Regions from separate parts of the Homo sapiens genome. Here all the other regions are reported to be linked to region 1. The links are microRNA targets in miRTarBase. Many come from high-throughput screens and were not tested one by one. Region 1 holds a microRNA gene; each other region holds the end of a gene's coding sequence.
Evidence for each region. The annotated mature microRNA hsa-miR-455-3p reads GCAGUCCAUGGGCAUAUACAC and lies in region 1 at 1,022-1,042, opposite strand. An mRNA with a match to its seed (bases 2 to 7 or 8) in the 3' UTR can be bound and repressed. Matches are read on the target gene's strand: a 7mer-m8 pairs with bases 2 to 8, a 7mer-A1 pairs with bases 2 to 7 and ends in A, and an 8mer does both.

Region 1 (3,254 bases):
GGACAGGGTGTCTTAGGAAATCTTAGCACCCACTGCCCACCACCAAACCAGTCCCACCACCTTCCCCAGACAGCCGCTCCCCCTGGCTGCTGGAACTCCTGCCACCTGCTCTTGCTGTCCCCACCCCCAACCAACACATTTTACTCAAGTAAACCAACTGATCTGTCTAAAAGAGGAATCAGCAGATGGTTTCTGGAAAGGGGCAGATAGTGAATATCTTTGGCTCTGTGGGCCATACGGTCTCTGTCACACCTACTCAACTCTGCCATTGTAGTGAGAAAGCGGCATTGACAATATGTAACCAAATGAGCAAGGCTGAGTTCAATAAAACTGTTTGCAAAAACAGACAACTGGCTGGATTTGGCCCATGGGCCACCGTTTGCAGACCCCTGATCTATATTATAAAGTGGGCCCGGTGTTCATTGGTTGCAAGTCCTCAAGAGGCTCCGCATACCCTCAGAACAGAGTTCCTTTTCTAACCTTAGTCCTGGGCACCTAAGACATTGCCCCAGGGTCCTCTCCAGCCTCAACTCCCACCACTCTCACCCTCTCACGCAGCACTTTGGCAGTGTTGAGTGTTAAACTCGCCAAGTTACCGTAAATCCCTGACTTCGCACATGCTGTTCCCTATGCCTGGAATGCATCTGCCTTGACTTGTCCCCTTATCAGACTCCTACTCGACTCAAGTGCACCTCCTCCAGGAGGAATTCCTTGACTTCCCCAGGCTGGTGCCTGGCAGGTTCTGCTCTGTTTGGGCAGGGGTGGCTGTGGATGGTGAATAACCAAAGAAGCAAACTTACTCGTTCTCCATCAGACCCTGGCAGGCCGAAGAGCCCTGGGAGCCCAATGTAGCCCTAGGAAAGAGAAGAAAGGGGGTCAGAGCGGTCAAGCAGTGAGGTGTGGCTGGCCCAACCTGCCGCAGCCCACCCACCACTGCCATCCCACATCCCGGCTCCTCCTCTTCCTCCCTGGTGGCAGTGGCAGCTCCGGTGGCTCCTCGATGACATAGGCCTTGAGGCAAGTGTATATGCCCATGGACTGCATGGTGCTGGCTTCCACGATGTAGTCCAAAGGCACATACCCTCACGCCAGGGAAGGGCGCAGGCGCTCGCCGGCAGGAGGCCCGCCCCACGCCAGGGCTCCAGGACCTGCAGAAGGAAGCTCGCGGCTGGGTTAGATGCTAGCACGGCACCAAGCCCTGCCCACCCCCAGGGATGCTGGTAGGTGCCCGTGGCTCCTGCCATGGCTCCTCCTAGGCCTTCAAGGTCCTGGATGTAGGGCTTACATCCACCTCTGGCCGCCTGAGTGCTGGCATTAACTAACAGCGGCTGCGAACCCGGAGTGCCAACATTGTGCCAGGCACATGCATGCTACCACATTAGACTCTCACAAGGACCCCCCAGATTGTCACCACCCACACTGGACAGACAAAGAAACTGAGGCTCTGTAGATAAAGCAACACGACTAGTCAGTAGTGGAGCTGTGAATTCTCTTCGGGAATTCCTAATCAGTTCAAGGGTCACCCAGGGCCAGCTGACTCCACAGCTGGGGCTCGTCACCATTCTGGGGCTCTTCCCTAGGATGCATCTCATTTCCTCCCTCCCAGCCTTTCCTCACTCTGTCCCCTCCACCAGGCATGTCCTTCCCATCCCTCATGACTTCTGAGCCAAATCCTTCAAAGCCCAGCTCTCATAAGCGCTCTCCTTGGGCAAGCATCCCTGATACCCCAAGCCGGAAGCAATCTCTCCCCCCCATCCCCAGTGCCATTTTTGCACCTCGGTAGCATCCTTCTCCACTTTCTCCCTTGTATCTTCATTATTTGTGTTCATGCTTCACGTCCTCATTAGCCTGGGAACTTCTAAAGGGCAGTAACCTCGCCCGGGGCTTCTACCACTATCTGCGTGCCACTCTTGGTGGAATGATTTAATAATAACTCTAACAAAAGCTAATGTTTATTGAGCACGAATGATAGGCCAGGCCTGCTGCCAGTGCTTTGCATATATTAAAGCATTTATTCCATCCTTATCACACCCCGAGGAAGTATTATATTTTATTATTTTTTTATTTATATATATTTTTTGAGACGGAGTCTTGCTCTGTCATCCAGGCTGGAGTGCAGTGGTGCGATCGTGGCTTACTGCAACCTCTGCTTACCGGGTTCAAGCGATTCTCCTGCCTCAGTCTCCTGAATAGCTGATCACAGGTGATCACAGGTGTGCACCACCACGCCCAGCTAATTTTTGTAGTTACTTTAGTAGAGACGGGGTTTCGCTATGTTGACCAGGCTGGTCTCGAACTCCTGGCCTCAGGTGATCCACCCGCCTTGGCCTCCCAAAATGCTGGGATTACAGGCACGAGCCACCGCGCCCAGCCCTGAGGAAGTATTATTACTCAGCCCCCTGTAGAGGTAAGACCATTTAGGCCCAGAGGGGTGAAGCAACTTGCCTAGGACCAAACAGCTGAAATGTGGTAGAACTGGTATTCAAATTCAAGTCTTCTGACTCCTGGGCCTGGGCTCCTAACCACTCTGCATACTGCCTCTCCTCAAACAAGCAACCAATGGAGGCTCACAACCATCTCTCCTTCCCTGGAAGGCCAAGAAGCCACTGAGCCTCCTCGTTGGCATCCAGCATGATTAATATCCATAATCTGAAAGAGTGCCATTTACTGCCATTCCAAATAGTGCTTATCTCCCAGATTTACAGGTGAGAAAATAATTGGCTCAGAGAGGCCCAGTGACTTGCCCAAGCTCCCACAGCTAGCTAATGGCAGGGCAGGTCTCAAAGCCTGTCATCCTGATTCCAAAGCCTGCCCTCTGCCTACTTCAGAAATATGAGGCTGGTGGTGGCAGGGTTGGAAGGGCAGCTTGAGTGACTCACTGCTCATCCAGGCTTCCCACCCAGGGCTGTGTGGCCTGTAAGAGACAGGAGTGCTGGGGCCAGACCAGTCCTCTCCTGCTATGTGACTTTGAGATGCCACCAGCCTGGCAGGCAAGTCGAGCAACCCCAGATGTCATTAACATGCCTGTCCTTCTGGCAGGTCAGGAGATCAGGACTGGGGCTGGACTGAGAAGACCTTTCTCCTTGGGTTTAGGGGGTCCCTCTGGGGGAATGGCCCATGGGAGCAGCAGAATAAAGGAAGAGAGGCACAGCACCCTGGGACAAGAGCCTCCTTAGGCCCTGCCTGTCACAGTAACCTCCTGGGGAATGCACCTCCCCGCCCCCACTCCCGCCTCCCCACACTCTCCTAACAGC
Region 2 (3,254 bases), not on the chromosome of region 1:
GTGGCTCATGCCTGTAATCCCAGCACTTTGGGAGGCTGAGGCGGGCGGATCATCTGAGGTCAGGAGTTCCAGACGAGACTGGCCAATATGGTGAAACCCGGTCTCTACTCAAAATACAAAAAAATTAGCTGGGCGTGGTGGCGGGTGCCTGTAATCCCAGCTGCTTGGGAGGCTGAGGCAGGAGAATGGCTTGAGCCCGGGAGGTGGAGGTTGCAGTGAGCCGAGGTTGCACCACTGCACTCCAGCCTGAGCGTCAGGGTGAGACTGTCTCAAAACAAAAAACAAAACAAAACAACCTTTAGTTGAACATCTCCAGAAAAAAGTGGAAACAATTTCTTTTTTAATTTAGCAATGTCCCAGAATGATGCCAAAAGATAAATATGGTAAAAGGTGGTTAGTAACATACAACATAAAGCCCAAAGGCTTGTATACCCAACTGAGTGAAACTAGCATGTTTAAGAATAGAGTAGGAGATTGGGAAAATGTAAGGAAGAAACCAACTTTCCAGGTTAAGGCTTAATTCTGATTGAAGTAAAAAGTTTTCTATTTGGAATGACAGCTTGACTATTCTACTTTGTAGTCAAGATGAATGACCAGCATAAAATAACTGGCTGGTTTATGACAAAATGCCAAATGTTGGGGGTTAAAATTGCTCATTTTACTTAAGATGTGACCCAGCTGATAGACACTAAATTAGAGGAAAGTATCAGTGTCAGCAAAGAGTAAGTTAAAGACATTTTATACTGGCAAAATACTTTCCTAAGTATTGTCATTGTTCTGCTGGTTGGAACTTAATTTGAGACAGAATGTTATGGCTGGAGGGGACTCTAGAAATATCTGGTCCAAATCATTTTACAGATGGGAAGCTTGCTAAAAGCTGAAATTAGGCAAAACAACTTTTTTTTTTAATAAAGACTCTTGAGTTAGTAGAAAAAAATAGTATCACCAAGGCAGGAAATGACTCCTCTTTGTATCTAATGCACAGCCAGTGCTTTTAATAGAAATCTGACCAGGAAGCTTTTAAATATCATTTCCTTTTTTGAGCTGGGGGCGTGGAGATTAAATGTTTTGTGGCAACATTTAATTTTTTTCTCCGATAAAAGTACACATTTATTGTAGAAAATGTAAAAAATATAAGCAAGCGCAAAGGAAAATAAGCCAACAAAAAGTTTAGTATATTTCCTTCAGGCTTTTTCTACGCAAATACAAAAATACTACTGTTCAGTTTTTAAATGGAACTTGACAATTATTTATTCATTGTAAAATAATCACAGGAACAGCAGCAGTGTAGGTTTCCCTACCTAGAGGGTGGTATGCAGTGATTCTCAGGCGCTGGTTGGAAGGCACAGCTGAGGGACACAAACTGCCAGGAAGTAATGTGGTAACTAGCCATGAGCTTGTGGTACTAATGGTGGCACGGGAAACAAGGTCTCTGCTTGACTTTTATTTTCACTCCATAACAAACTCACCAGATCAGGAGCCTAAGGGTGGGTGGGGAGGGAGAAGAGAGAAAAAAGCAAAGGGAAAGTTCAAAGTGACACTCGCTGGGGCTGAAAACCACACTCCCCTGCAGATGAGGTCCTTGGCTTTCTCTTGAAATTAAGGCTGATCTAGAACGCTGGCTGGCGACTCTGATTTGGCCTCTCTGGGGGATACAATGTCATCTCTCATTACCAGACAACTTTAAATGGTGGATGGATCTTTAGATCCTTTATAAGCTTATACTAGTTGCGGGTCTCCCTGAGAACTAGATTCCACGATATTTTATATCTATATATAGGCCTTTAACAAATACATGATGGCACACAAAAAAATCATCTCCCTATTAGGAAAATCTGGTTACTTCCAGGATTCTACAGGATCCTTCTCAGAACCTGCAGTTGTTAGGCTACAGCAACATACTCAAGCTAAGTTGTGATACAACCACTGTGACTTCTAATCCTAGTTTGGTGACCTCCTAGGTATCTCCAATCATCTCCCAAGTTTTAAAAAATTCTGATTTTAGGAAATCAATTTTGTTCTTTTTAATCGAAATAAACCAGAGGGTATTCAAAAGAGCTGAAAACTTCTGGCTCACATAGCTTCTGTCACCACCAATGAGATGCCACATGCGCTGACTACTTGGGTCACTTTTAATTTTTATGTTGCTGATTGTATGTGTGCATCTCCTGTCTTGTAAGCATTAAACAAATGAAGACATATGCAGAGCTGTGAAATTCACTCTGCACTGAATAGACAAAAAGGGTTACATAGCATAACAATGAGCAGTTGGTATCCACGTGGTTCTCAGCATTATAAACTCTGGGGAAGATGCTACTTCGTAACCTCAAGGAAATAAGTAAGCAAGGCAGAAGGAACACTTAAACAAGTATTATTCAACAGACATGTTTACACTAAATAATTAAGGTTATATTTAGGGTTTAAACTCATCCCTGAATATCCTTAGTAACAACCTGGAGGAAAAACTGGGGTGAATGAGAACTTAAGTTTTCCAAGGATTATGGTTCAAATCCTCTGAAATCTATAACAGGTTAAAAAAATGAGAACTCAACTTTCTAGAGCAATAACTCTTCTCGAGGGCACTAGCACAAGGCGGTAGTGATTTTCACTTTTAATATATTACATATAATACTACAAAAAGACTGAAGTTTTAAGGAAAATCCATTATTATTAAAAGTTTAGTACTCTTGAGTCTGGACTTTCTGACAATAAAATACACCAGAGCAAAAGCCCAAGAAAGTACAACAAAGAGGTATACTAACTGGCAAAATAGCTGCTGCAACATGCCACAGGCACTTCAGGCCTAACATTTCTGAAAAAGCATGGAACGTGTGGATTCCCAGGAAAAAACTGCCTCAGATCATTTGTAACAGGAAGAAATAGTAAGTGACCTCTCTAACAACACTCACTAGTAGATATTACATATTTCCCGTGGCTTGTTTGTTTGCATGTTATTGAGAACAGGGCAAGGAAAGGCACTGTTTTCTCCAGGTAGTTGTTTTTGAGCAAGTGAGGGCAAGCTATACCCCTGCATCAGTACTTCGTGGCTGAAAACCCTCCCTCCGAAGGCTACCCATGTCAAAGCGGGTGGAGACCTCACAGCGCACTAATAATGTGTCATCCTTAATGAAAGTTCTTTGTCTTAGGGCTTCCAGATGCATAAAAGTTACATAGCCAAAACCTTTTGGGTTCCGTGGGATTGTGGGTCGCTGGAAAGCAAGCAGCTCTGGTTTGGCATCCATTATCTCTTCGTG
Region 3 (3,254 bases), not on the chromosome of region 1:
CTCTGTTGCTCGGAACACCTCCTTCATTCATCCCCCACCAGTCTTGGGGGTCACAGGCTATGGCTGAGGTCATGGACTCCATGTCCTCTGGAGGGTCCCGCTGAGCATTAGTGGAAGACTGCAGACTGGAGCCGCTGATCAGGGAGCTCACCCCCGTCTGCACCCCCAGGGTCTCTAATGATTGCTTCTGTTTTACTAGATTTTTATGTATTCAAGGGAAGCTTCATGCACTTCCCAGTCACGTCACAACAACTAACACCCCGCAGGAGCTTGGGAACAAGAAGAAAGCACAGCCCGTGACACCCAGCGAAGTTGAATGATTTGGTCGATTTGGTCAGAGCCACGCAGCACACACAGGTATTACTCTTCCACCCTCCTGCTGTTCTTGGCAGGCCTGGCTGGGCTGAGAAAGGGAGGGCCCTTCCCCACTGAGTGAGACAGAGGCTATTGTGTGTTATGAAACCCAAAACTCTGGGGCCCCCTCCGGCTGGAGGTGGGGTCGGTGGAGGGGAGGGGCTGCAGGGGATGGCCCACTGCCCCCCAGCCCCAGGGACCCAGCACATGCTCCCAGCCCCAGCCACATCTGGATTCCAGCTGGCAGCTCCTGAGGCCCAGGGTGCGGGGGAGAAGTCGCTGCAGGAACTTGCCATCAAAGACCAAGAGGAGTTTTGTGGGTGGGGAGACAGAAGGCAGAGGCCGACTGCAGGGCCAGGGCTGCCTCCTACTCCCGATCCCGGCCAAGGGTGCAGTGAGGGGGGCATTGTCCATGAGACCCGTCCCAGTCCTCAACCACCTGCAGGGGAAACAGAGAGGTGAGTGACTCTCCCATGGCCACAGTGGCAGAGCTGGGCATGGAACCTGGGTCTGCGTGGCCACAAGTCCAGAGCTGGTGCTCCACCCCTGGGGACATGAGTTCCAGCCCATTCCTCGGGAGCACCGGTCTTTCCTTTGTTTCCCACATCAATCTGTCCCTTCACCCTCCAGGACTGGGCTGATGTGTCTCCCCAGAAAGTTGTCCCCATCCCCATGCAAGAGCCCCTCCCCAGCAGGCTCATTTCCCCCACCCCCCAGAAAACTGGTGAGACTTCAGGCCGGAATAAAGGTTTATTGTGCTGGTGCATTATATCTCAGCACCTGGAGAGCTGTGCAGAGGTTGGGGGAGCCCCAGATGGAGGGATGGGGGAGAGGACCTCCTGCCAGAGCCTCCCTAAAGCAGGACGGAGCCCAGGCTCCCTGTCGAGGACTGACGAATATTGTGGACACAGGCTGCCAGACAATGTGTGAGCAACAGGGGGTGGCCAGGGCCCCCCTGCTCCAGGCTGGGCGTCAGAAACCCTTCCCCAGCCCCTCGGACTTCCCCAGGGTGGAGGTCCCCTCAAACACAGCCCCTCAGCTTCTAGGCTGCTTTGGAGGCCAGACAGGAAGAGTTCCATTCATTCAACCTGATCCCAGCAGCAGTAGCGGGATGAGAAACTCACCCCCAGGCCGGGGGTGCTTGGAGAGCGCTTGAGAGGATTTAAATGCCCTATACCCCACATCCCTAATCCTGGACCAACTAGAAACAGGGGGCCACCTTCAGGAAAATTAAGAGCAGTATTTTCCAGAGTGGGTGCTGCAGGATTTTACCCTGTAGCTGTTTTAAAAAGTAGTTTGGGCCGGGCACGGTGGCTCACGCCTGTAATCCCAGCACTTTGGGAGGCAGAGGCAGGTGGATCACCTGAAGGTCAGGAGTTCCAGACCAGCCTGGCCAACATGGTGAAGCCCCATCTCTACTAAAAATACAAAATTTAGCTGGGCGCAGTGGTGGGCACCTGTAATCCCAGCTACTGAGGCGGGAGAATCGCTTGAACCTGGGAGGCGGATTGCACTGAGCCAAGATTGCACCAAGATTGCACCACTGCACTCCAGCCTGGGTGACAGACCGAGACTCCGTCTCAAAAAAAAAAATCTTGTTTCCGTAGAGTGCCTCGGGGAACCTAGTTTGGGAAATGCTCATTTAGGGACCTGTCGTAATGTGTGCAGGGGTCCTCTCACAGAAGTGTCCTAATTAACCACACACACTTCTGCTGCTGGAGCTCTGAGCACAGGCAGAATGACACTAAAATATTCAGCATTGAAAGGACACAAGAAGGGAACCATTTGCAGTTTCAAAATACTGCTTCACGCCAGGCTGCATGTTGCCTTACGAACGCTGGGCACCTTGGCGTCTCTCATCCAAACTCTTCCAAAACTCCCACTTATTCTTTGCTCCCTTGATGGAAAAGCAGTGATGTTTGCCCCACAAATGACCTGTGACATATGATTCCCAATTAATGTGGCTGATTTAGTGGACTGTTTTTTGTTTTTATAGAGATGGGTCTCACAATGTTGCCAGGGCTGGTTTGGAACTCCTGGTCTCAAGTGATGTCCGCACTTGGCCTCCCAAAATGCTGAGATTACAGGTGTGAGCCTCCACACCCAGCCTTGAGGGATGTTTTATCCTGGCTGTCACAGGGACACGTGCCCTCCCTCACTTTGTCAGGGGAGCTGTGCTGTAGGATGTAGCCCTTTGGGGCTGCTGAGGTGAAGGATGATGGCACTTGGTAAGATTCCTCCGGGGCACCGGGGACCAGCATTTCTGCCTGCTGTAGAATCAGCACATGCTGGGATTGGCACCACAGGGAGGCCAAGGAGGGAGTGTCAGGAAGCAGTCAGGGCTGAAGGCCTTTTCATACACGGGGAGGTGACCACTTGGGGGCCCGACAGTCAGGGCTGGCAGCCCGGGAGGACTGTTAGACACTGGGGTGGACACTGCTGCAAGCACAGGGGCTTTCGGGGGGACCCACTGGTCCCTGGGCTTCCTGGGCTAACAAGAGAGACCCTTCCAGCTCCCCTTGGCCCTCACCGGCCACCACAGCCCCCTCAAGGACCCCTGAGCACGGCTCCTCCTGCGCCTCTGGTGTCTCCACTGGGACCCCATGTCCCTGGACTTCCTGGTCCCCCTCCTGGCTGCCCTTCTCCTCTTCCTCTGCGCCCCTGCCCTCCACCATCCTGGCTCCGTCCCCACCGCCCAGTGCAGCCCTGGTGGGGGACTTGAGGTTCTGGGTGGCGGCCAAGATGTCGGCCTGGAGCTGCCGGGAGGAATCCAGGGCTTCCTCGGGCCTGCTGTCGGGGGCTCTGTCGGGGACCTCACTGAAGGCCCGGGGGCCCCCGGCCCGGTCACTCTGGTCCACGTACTTCTTCTTGGGGAAGGACGATGGGTAATAGGCCGAGGC

Region 2: miRTarBase lists TRAF6 as a target of hsa-miR-455-3p. The part of its 3' UTR that is shown has no 7-base or 8-base seed match.
Region 3: the mRNA of TMEM119 is a reported target of hsa-miR-455-3p. The part of its 3' UTR that is shown has no 7-base or 8-base seed match.

Annotation. Positions count from the first base shown.
Region 1 is chr9:114,207,275-114,210,528 of GRCh38, reverse strand. MIR455 (microRNA 455) reads right to left here and starts at 1,095; the gene lies at 1,000-1,095. It overlaps COL27A1 (collagen type XXVII alpha 1 chain), which reads right to left. Exons shown (of 61, transcript NM_032888.4): 11 at 801-854.
Region 2 is chr11:36,486,818-36,490,071 of GRCh38, forward strand. It overlaps TRAF6 (TNF receptor associated factor 6), which reads right to left. Exons shown (of 7, transcript NM_004620.4): 7 at 1-3,254. The coding sequence ends at 3,021. Among named protein-coding and RNA genes, the nearest start is that of TRAF6, 22 kb to the right of the region's middle.
Region 3 is chr12:108,588,761-108,592,014 of GRCh38, forward strand. It overlaps TMEM119 (transmembrane protein 119), which reads right to left. Exons shown (of 2, transcript NM_181724.3): 2 at 1,091-3,254. The coding sequence ends at 2,772. Among named protein-coding and RNA genes, the nearest start is that of TMEM119, 7.7 kb to the right of the region's middle. RefSeq lists an enhancer at 18-746.